Linked DNA regions of Homo sapiens. The protein of the gene in region 1 purifies or fractionates together with the protein of each later gene. This does not show direct contact. Each region holds a gene or a part of one and is shown on either strand. Other genes may lie near its edges. The genes, in order: ITPKB and ADNP2.

The links.
Region 2: the proteins of ITPKB (region 1) and ADNP2 purify together in Homo sapiens (affinity purification with mass spectrometry; one large-scale study listed by BioGRID and IntAct). This does not show direct contact.

Annotation. Positions count from the first base shown.
Region 1 is NC_000001.11:226,634,746-226,638,553, reverse strand, and holds part of ITPKB (inositol-trisphosphate 3-kinase B), read left to right. Parts: intron 1-803; coding exon 804-875; intron 876-3,667; coding exon 3,668-3,808. UniProt on the Homo sapiens protein: Catalyzes the phosphorylation of 1D-myo-inositol 1,4,5-trisphosphate (InsP3) into 1D-myo-inositol 1,3,4,5-tetrakisphosphate and participates to the regulation of calcium homeostasis.
Region 2 is NC_000018.10:80,107,492-80,112,099, forward strand, and holds the start of ADNP2 (activity-dependent neuroprotector homeobox protein 2), read left to right. Parts: upstream 1-1,770; 5' UTR 1,771-1,981; intron 1,982-2,399; exon of another isoform or gene 2,400-2,530; intron 2,531-4,608. UniProt on the Homo sapiens protein: May be involved in transcriptional regulation. May play a role in neuronal function; perhaps involved in protection of brain tissues from oxidative stress. May be involved in erythroid differentiation.

The DNA.
Region 1 (3,808 bases):
AAGTGCACGGCTCCCTGGGACAGTCAGAGATCCAGGCACATCTGGGACACGGGCCCTGGAGCCCCTGTGAATGGCACCTTCTGAACAGTCCACAGCAGCTGCAGAGCAAGTGGGGGCGGACCAGGCAGCCGTTTCTCCAAGGAGACTCAGTACCGGCTGGAACTGGGAAATCTTCCTTTTCCAGCTGGGGAGGCTTCCCTTGGCTCCTGGCAAGCTCTGAGGCTGCAGGCAGGGGGAATGTGCCTGACTCTTTCGTAGCCCAAGTCCTCCAATTCCTGAGTCCCTTGCAGGGGAGGATCTCAGCCCCTAAGCAGTGGCCACCATGGAACATGCCTCCTATGCCTGGGGTTTGTTCCTGGTGCTGAAGACTCCAGGGGGCTGCTCGGCTGGCCCGGCCAGCTGTCACTCTTTTCCAGCAGGCATTGAGGAACTCTGTGTACCTGTGTATGACGAGCTTCCCAAGGCAGCCCGGGGGTGAGACCCACAGAGCTGGCTTCTGGGGAAGATGGGGCACCCCCCAAGGCCAGCAAAGCTTGACATGGGTTTATAGGGCTCCATGGAGAGGGCACTGGGAGAGATATTTGTGGTTCTCTCTCTTACCCTGTCCTTTCAAAAGTCAAAGGTACTGACATTTATGCTGAGAAAGACGCCACAGCAGCCCTGCTCGCAGGAAGCTGCCTCTAGATGTCCGGCGTTTAGGGTAAAGCACATTCACGGGAGGGACCACTAGAGGCCGCATGGGTGTTCTGACACTGCCCTTCCCCACGCGGCGCTTAAAAATCTGGTCCTCTTTCTATTCCCAGATCGCCTATCGGGACCGGCTGAAGGCCATTCGAACCACTCTAGAAGTTTCTCCCTTCTTCAAGTGCCACGAGGTAGATACTGGGCTTTTGCCCTCTTGAGCAGAATGCTGCGCGTGCCAACAGGCCTTCTCCTTCTCCTTCCAGAAGCCCGGGGCATCGGGCATTTTCAGGGTGGTGCAGCCAGAGGCAGGCCATCAGGGACCAGACCCTCGCTGCACGGGGGAGCTGCGTCTCAATGCTTCCTGGGGTGACCACACGGGCTGTCCTGCCTGAGACCCCTGGCTATTGCCCCCTTTCTCCTCCCTTGTCCTTCCAGCTCCAGAGTCTTGTCCATTCTGGGCAGTGGTGGCAGGACTCATATCCCACACACCCGTGGTCTCAGGGCAGAAGCTCTCTGAGCTGCTAGAGTAGCCAGGCACCCGCCGACCGCCACCTACATCTTCAGATGAGACCCTGAGGAGGGCAGGCAGGTCTTCAGGTGCCACTCTCGGGCAGGGCTGGAATCTCCCAACTTTGCATACGTTGGTTGGCAGGGGCAGCAGGCAGCAGGTGGGGAACTGAGACACCTGAGAGAGGCTCTGGGAGGTGTCGGCAGGTTCCCTGGAGGGGTGTGAGACCCTGACATGGGGAGTCCAGGTCCCCAGCCACATGACACATTCACACACACATTCACAGATCCCACACTCATCAATCCTATACCACACACATTCACAGATCACACTCATAAACCCTACATGCACACACCTTCACAGATCACACTCAAACCCTACATGCACACACATTCACAAATCACACACATTCACACACATGCAGATCAATCACATGCATGCACACACATTCATACAGCACATTAACACAAGTCATACGTATACAAACACACACATGTATTCATATATCCACACACATTTTTGTGTGCACACCCACTCATACACAAACATGCATGCCTTTCCCAGTCTCACACACACACACACACACACACACACACACACACACACACAGAGCTGCAGTCCTGGGGCTGGCTAATCCCATGGGTGGGTGGGTGTGAAGCGGGATCCTGCGGCTCCCTGCAGCTGTGTAGGTAGTTCAGGAAAGCAGCCCCTCTCGTAGGGACTCTCTTGTGGAGGTCCTCTTGTATGGGGTCTTACATGGAGGTGGCCTCAGCCTCAGCCTATGCCCACAGAGAAGGCTGCGGAGCCAGCAGGAGGAACTCATAGGGTCAGCCCTGAGGCAGCCAGCAGGGCGGTGCATCTTTCTGCAAACTACACCACCAGGCCTCCTCAGGCAGATGGTCTACCTTGCTCTGCATGTCATTCCCTGCGGGGCGCCTGGAGAGGATGGCTGCGAGGAGGGGGTGGCACACCCAGAGAGGAGACTCAGGCTTTGCTGTGCCCCTAGCAGGGAGCTCGGTCCTTCTCGGAATGTTCTTTGCTCTCCTTGTCCCCCAGACCCTCAGCTCCTCCTGTGGCCTCTCCTTTCCACTTGATGAAGCATCCTCCTGCCACCTGCCAGAGCCCCCTTTGCCCCAGCTGCCTCTCTGGACGATGGGGGTGCTGCCTGGCTGCCTGACCCCAGGGGCCAAGCCTGGGAGAACTTAAGGCCACAGAGCTCTGTCTCAAAGCCGTTCCCACCCTTCTTCAACACTTCTGCTTTTATTTCTTGGAAAAGCATTTTGTTCTACACTTTTTGGGGTCTCCCTTAAGGTCTAGAAAGAGGCCAAATCAGCTTGGGTCTGTTGTTTTCCACCTGCGAAGAGGAAGCCCCTTTTTTGGGCTCAGCCTCGCCAGGGGCCCCACCTGCCCTGCACTGCTGGAAGCTGGAATGTCACCTGAGCCCTTTCTGTGCCCCCGGCCTTCCTCTGGCCCCACTGAGGTGATGCAGGGGTATGTGTGGCCATATTTGGGAAAGCGCCTCGCTCCCATGCAGAGGCTCTGAGCTCACCCAGGAGGGGCAGGCTCTTTGGTGCCCACTATCCCTGGGCCAGGCTGGGAAGGCCCTATAGGGTCTGCCCACGCTGAATCTGCAGGGGTTGTGCTGCTGGGGTGGGGGTGCTGTGTGCATTTGAAACAGGTTCTTCACCACCCCCGCCCCGGGATAGTTTGGACGCTCCTGGGCACCTTCCCCTTCACTGTGGTTCCCTGCAGAGTGTTTGGGAGGAGTCAGGTTCTAGGAGGCGGAAGGGCGAGGCCCCAGATTGGGTTGTGGTCTAGAAAGAGTGGAAAGTTTGCCCAGGTGCAGTGTGATTCATGCCCGTAATCTCAGCACTTTCCGAGGCCAAGGCAGGAGAATGGCTTGAGCTTAGGAGTTTGGGACCAGCCTGGGTAACATAGTGAAACCCTGTCTCTACAAAAATAAAAAACAAAAAGTTAGCCGGGCATCGTGGTGCATGCCTGTAGTCCCAACTACTCGGGAGGCTGTGGTGGGAGGATCGCTTGAGCCTAGGAGATCAAGGCTACAGTAAGCTGAGGTTGCACCACTGCACTCCAGCTGGGGCGACAGAGTAAGACCCTGTCTGGAAGGAAGGAAGGAAGGGAAGAAAGGAAGGAAAAGAAGGAAGGCAGGAAGGAAGGAAAGAAAGAGGGAGGGAAGGAGTGGAAAGTGTGCAGGCCAGAGTCAGGGGGTGAAGGGGTGCCTGCTGCTGCCCACACAGAAGGGTGGTCGCCGACCCTGGAACCCGATGCCCTCTGCCCAGGCATGGCCATTCTTGGGCCGGCTCTGCTGCCTGTCTGAAAATGGGGATTGGAATTGCAGGCACCCAACTGTCCGGCCTGAGCGAGCCTCCCCACCTGGTCACCCAGGCCCCGGGCCGCAGTGGGGAGGGCGAGGCCCGGGCTTCAGCTCACCCTTCACCCCCATGTTCTCCTCAGGTCATTGGCAGCTCCCTCCTCTTCATCCACGACAAGAAGGAACAGGCCAAAGTGTGGATGATCGACTTTGGGAAAACCACGCCCCTGCCTGAGGGCCAGACCCTGCAGCATGACGTCCCCTGGCAGGAGGGGAACCGGGAG
Region 2 (4,608 bases), on another chromosome or scaffold:
AGCCCGTTTGAGGAGTAGTGGTGGTGGGGCGGCTTTGTTGCGGGAGGTCTGTAGGAAAGGGGGATTGGTCTGTAGTAACAAATGGAAGATAGATACAGAAAGACGAGGCCTAAAATCTGTTTTGGGCTCAGCAATTAGGAGGGCGCTGGTGACCAAGGCGTTTCTGCAGAGTGGTGAGGGTGGGGGCGAGAGGCGTGCAGGGGGCTGAGGAGACAGACACAGGGACTGCTGTTTTGAGAAATGTGATAAAATGAGAGGTCACTAGAGGATCAATGGGAGACTGCAGGCTTTAACTACACTTTTCATCCCACCCATAATTTTGCAAGGAAGATATATAGGGACATCACACCCATTTACCACTGTAACTCAAAGTAAAATCTTAACTTGTCAGCAAACATAAAGGGCAAACTCTACTTCAATTATGACTTGTATTCATGTAGGAAAAAAGCAAATTTTGGTCAGGTCATATCGGCCCACCATTTAACACAGTTTTAAAACGAATATGGACATTAATTTAGTGCCTATTATGTGTTTAGTCACTGGGCTAAACTGAGCAGAAGGCTCCCATTGAGAGGGAAAAGCTGAAATTATGGACGAGCGGATGGTGACAAGGAGGCTCTGGAGAGGGCGGTGGGCGGAAGGCCCAGCCTGGGCACGGCCTCTGCCCCGCGGTGGCTGGAGTGGGCCTCAGGGCTGGAGGCTGGCGGCGGGTTGCAGGGGCTCGGCGCTCTGGAAGGAGACGTGGCCTTGTGCTGAAAGGGGCACGTGTCCTGCAGACGGCTTCGCCAAGAAGGAACTGCCTGGAACAGCCACTGAGGGCGCGGCTGAGTTAGGGTCAGGGGAAGGAACACTGGAGGGGAGTTAGGGTCAGAGTCAGGGTTAGTGCTAGGTGAGGTTCAGGTGCAGGGTCAGAATTAGGGTTAAGGTTAGGGGCACTGGGGGAGGCGCCTGCGCTGCCCTCGTGGTTACTCCCACGTGCTCTGGGGCACGAGGGCGTCCGCCAGAGGCCTGGGGACTCCACGGAACGAAGACCTAGAGCCATTTTGAAAGCCCTACGCCATGTTTCCACTAATTTTGTGGAATAAATTATTATTGCTACACAATTGATAAACACCTGTGCAAAAATGAACTTTTAGGTTAAGAGTTTATACAAATGTATGCAATTAACCCTCTCCCCACACAACTTGTAGTAGATCTAAAAATCAGAATTCTCAAGAGAAGGTGTGATCACTTTCCCACAGGAATGATGAAGTCAGGAGACCCCAGCTAGTCGGTTCACCAGGATATGCCAATCATGGCACACTTGTCCCAGTTCTGGGAGCCAAAGTTTTGTCTTCCAATGGCAAGGCAGCATTATCACAGTTGGGCTCCCATTGGCTCTGAGATGTGGGCGGGGTCACCACTCCTGGAGCTGCCACTAGCTCCACCCCATTCCATGCAAATGAAGTCAAAGCTGTGGTGAGTCCACGTGATTAGTCACATGGTTGATGACACACTCTCCCCACCCCTTTAGTGACGTCATTGCCCACTCAAACTCTCACGAGAGTTTGCACAGATGTGGAAAGGAGCTGGCAGGGCAGTTCCCTGGGACAGAAGGGAGTCAGGGGGTCCAACAGGGGCCCCCCACTGCCACCCCAGAGCCTCCAGTCCATCTTTAGCCAGGGGCCCCGGGGGGCCTGTGGGAAGTGCCAGGGGCCCCCAAGCACACTCTGCTCTCATTGGCTGGCTGCGCCTACATGCAAATGAGGGCCAACGTCACTTCCTGAGGCCAATCGAGCGCCATTTTCTCTTTCTGGCTGCGCGGGAGGAGGGGACCAGTCGCGCTGGGGGTGGGCGCGCGCTGAGGCGGGGGTCCCGCCGCGCGGGGCGGAGGCGCGGGCGGGCGCAGGCGGCCCCACGGGACGCGGCTGCGCTCGGCGGAAGACGCGGCAGCCCTGCGAGAGGCAGCAGCGGAGACGCGGTGCTCCTCGGGCGCCAAGCGGTAGGTACGGCCCGGCCCGGCGCGGGCCCGCGCGGCGACGCCCCCTGCCCCGGTCCTGGCCCCCGCCCCAGTCTGGTCCCCTCCGAGCCCCGCCCCCGCCGGTACCCAGCCCACACCCACGCCCGCCGCCTGCCCTCGCGCCGCCCGTGGCCGCCTCGGGAATCCCGGGACGTTCTCAGGGCGCGGGTTCGCGGCCCGAACGGCGCCCGTCGACCCCCGACGCGCCCGCGGCCCGCCCCGCCCGCCGCCGGTCACGTGGGAGCGGGGGCCGCCCCGGGAGGGCGGAGAAGGGGATGGGGACCTGAGGGGAGAGTAGGAATAGGGGAAAGACGAGGACGGGGACCGAGGGAGAGAGGGGGGCTGGTGAAGGGAGCGAGGAGTAGAGGGAGAGGGAACGGGGATGGAGAAGAAGAGAGGGGGCAAGGAGCTGTGGCGACCCCTGTAAGGACTCCAGAAACGCCCCGCCCGCTGGCCCGCCCGCCGCATCCCCGAGACCGGGTTCTCCTGGAAGCTTCTCTCTGGAGGAGCCTTGAGTGACGGCAGATGTAGGTCAGGAGCTGACGGTGACACCTAAATCTGCCCAGGTTTTTTTTTCCCTAGAAAGGTTTGAAGAACAGCTGATAACGGGGCCCTGTTTCTTCATCGTTGAGCTTTTGATGCGAATATCAATAATTGATATACAGATGTTGACTTTAACATTACTTTTCATCTGCCGTTGCTGGTTGCATTGAAATAGATTCCGTTTACAAAATTTCTACTACAGTTGACTTTGGAATGTTAATTTTAACTGCCCTTTTAAATACTGTACAGATGCAGAATGAGAAATAATTAGATATTTTAAGTAGTTTATTTGAACAGAAGACTTGCCTGCGTGCTTAAAACTTACTCTATTTGCACGGGTAATCACTGCCTCTTGGGATCTTGAGGAATATACTGGCTGTGGAGGAGTGGGGTGGGGGAGGAGAAACTGGTAAGCAGGTAACTGACAATGCAGATTGGCAAGTGGGGCAGCAGTTTGTAGAGTACTGTGGGCATCTGCCACGCAGAGCCTTTATCAAAAGAGGGGGTTTGGAGTCTGGGTACCATTTTTGGGGGTGAGGAGCATTAGTGGGAGAGAGGACCACATGTAAAAAGAGTTGTGTAAAGTACATGTTCAGCTGTATTTGGAAGTCGGTAATGTATGTGTAACTTATTTAAAGATGTTCTTGGAGAGTTGGCCATGTATGAGTGTGTATTAATATTTCGGTTAAATTTCGGTTGGAGTTAGGACTTCACTGCGAAGACAGCATTGAGCCCGTCGTCCTTAAACATGAAGTGACAGATGTGTGTTAAGAAAGGAAGTACAAGAGTGAAGATGAGACAAGAGGTTGTCCTACCGGCCCTCTAGTTGAGGGGAGGAACAGTGAGGGTTAGGACATGTCTGAAAGGAGTTGATCACTGTTTATGGGGGAAGATGACAGCTATGCTAAGATTTTTAGCTGAAGAGATTCTGGGATTTGGGAGACACGTTTTTAATTTGAACCCAAGTTTGCAATATGCTGTTGGTTAATTTATGATTGCCCTCATAAGTTCACCAATAGCATATTGCAAACTTGGTTTCTGCCCTGCCCTTCATCCTCTGGCTATCCTAGACCTGTTAGGGCAATGTGTTACATAGGTGGAAACCGGTATCTCCCAGTGATTTGAACCCAGATCTGCTGAATATATGATCCAAGTATTCTGTGTTTTTAAAGTTGCTTTTTAAAAAGTCCTGTATTCCAATAGTTGGGACATTTCATTTAGTTTTTTGGAGTTAATTAATAGCAAACTCAGTGCTTATGTGCTGTTTTGCATGTATTAACTCATTTATCCTCATAACTACTCTGTGAATTAGGTCATACTCGCCCTGTTTTACAGAAGAGCCAGCTGAGGCCTGGAGAGAGTAAGTGATTTCCTGAAGATTACACAGCTCATAAATGGTGGAGCTGATGTAAACCCGGGCACACAACTCCAGAATCCTTTTTGGTGACCATCGTTTTGTGCGATTTCACAGGAACTAAAAAAAAGTTCTGTGGCTTAAAAAGTATTGTTTATTACTGTATTACCTGAATGACATTTTTTTTTTTTTTTTTTGAGACGGAGTTTTGCCCTGTCGCCCAGGCTGGAGTGCAGTGGTGTGATCTCGGCTCACTGCAACCTCTGTCTCCCGGGTTCAAGCGATTCTCCTGCCTCAGCGTCCCGAGTAGGACCCAGCCAATTTTTTGGTAATTTTTAGTAGAGACAGGGTTTCACCATATTGGTCAGGCTGGTCTCCAACTCCTGACCTCAGGTGATCTGCCCGCCTTAGCCTTCCAAAGTGCTGGGATTACAGGTGTGAGCCGTTGCACCCGGCCAACATTTTCTTTTAGAATGTATTTTTTTTTCTATAATAGAATATCCTTACGAGATCATTATACTAAAAAATCCCCAGAGAAGTCCTTTATGTACCCTTTTGGGAAATAATATTTTCTTGTGCATATCAGTGGAATTTTATGGTAGTTCCATGCCTACCCTAAACATTAGGAATTGAGATTTATTTTGAATTGAAATTGATAGGTTGGTGCATGATGTGGAAATAGTTGGCCGCCCCGGTTAGCCTGCTGTTTTCT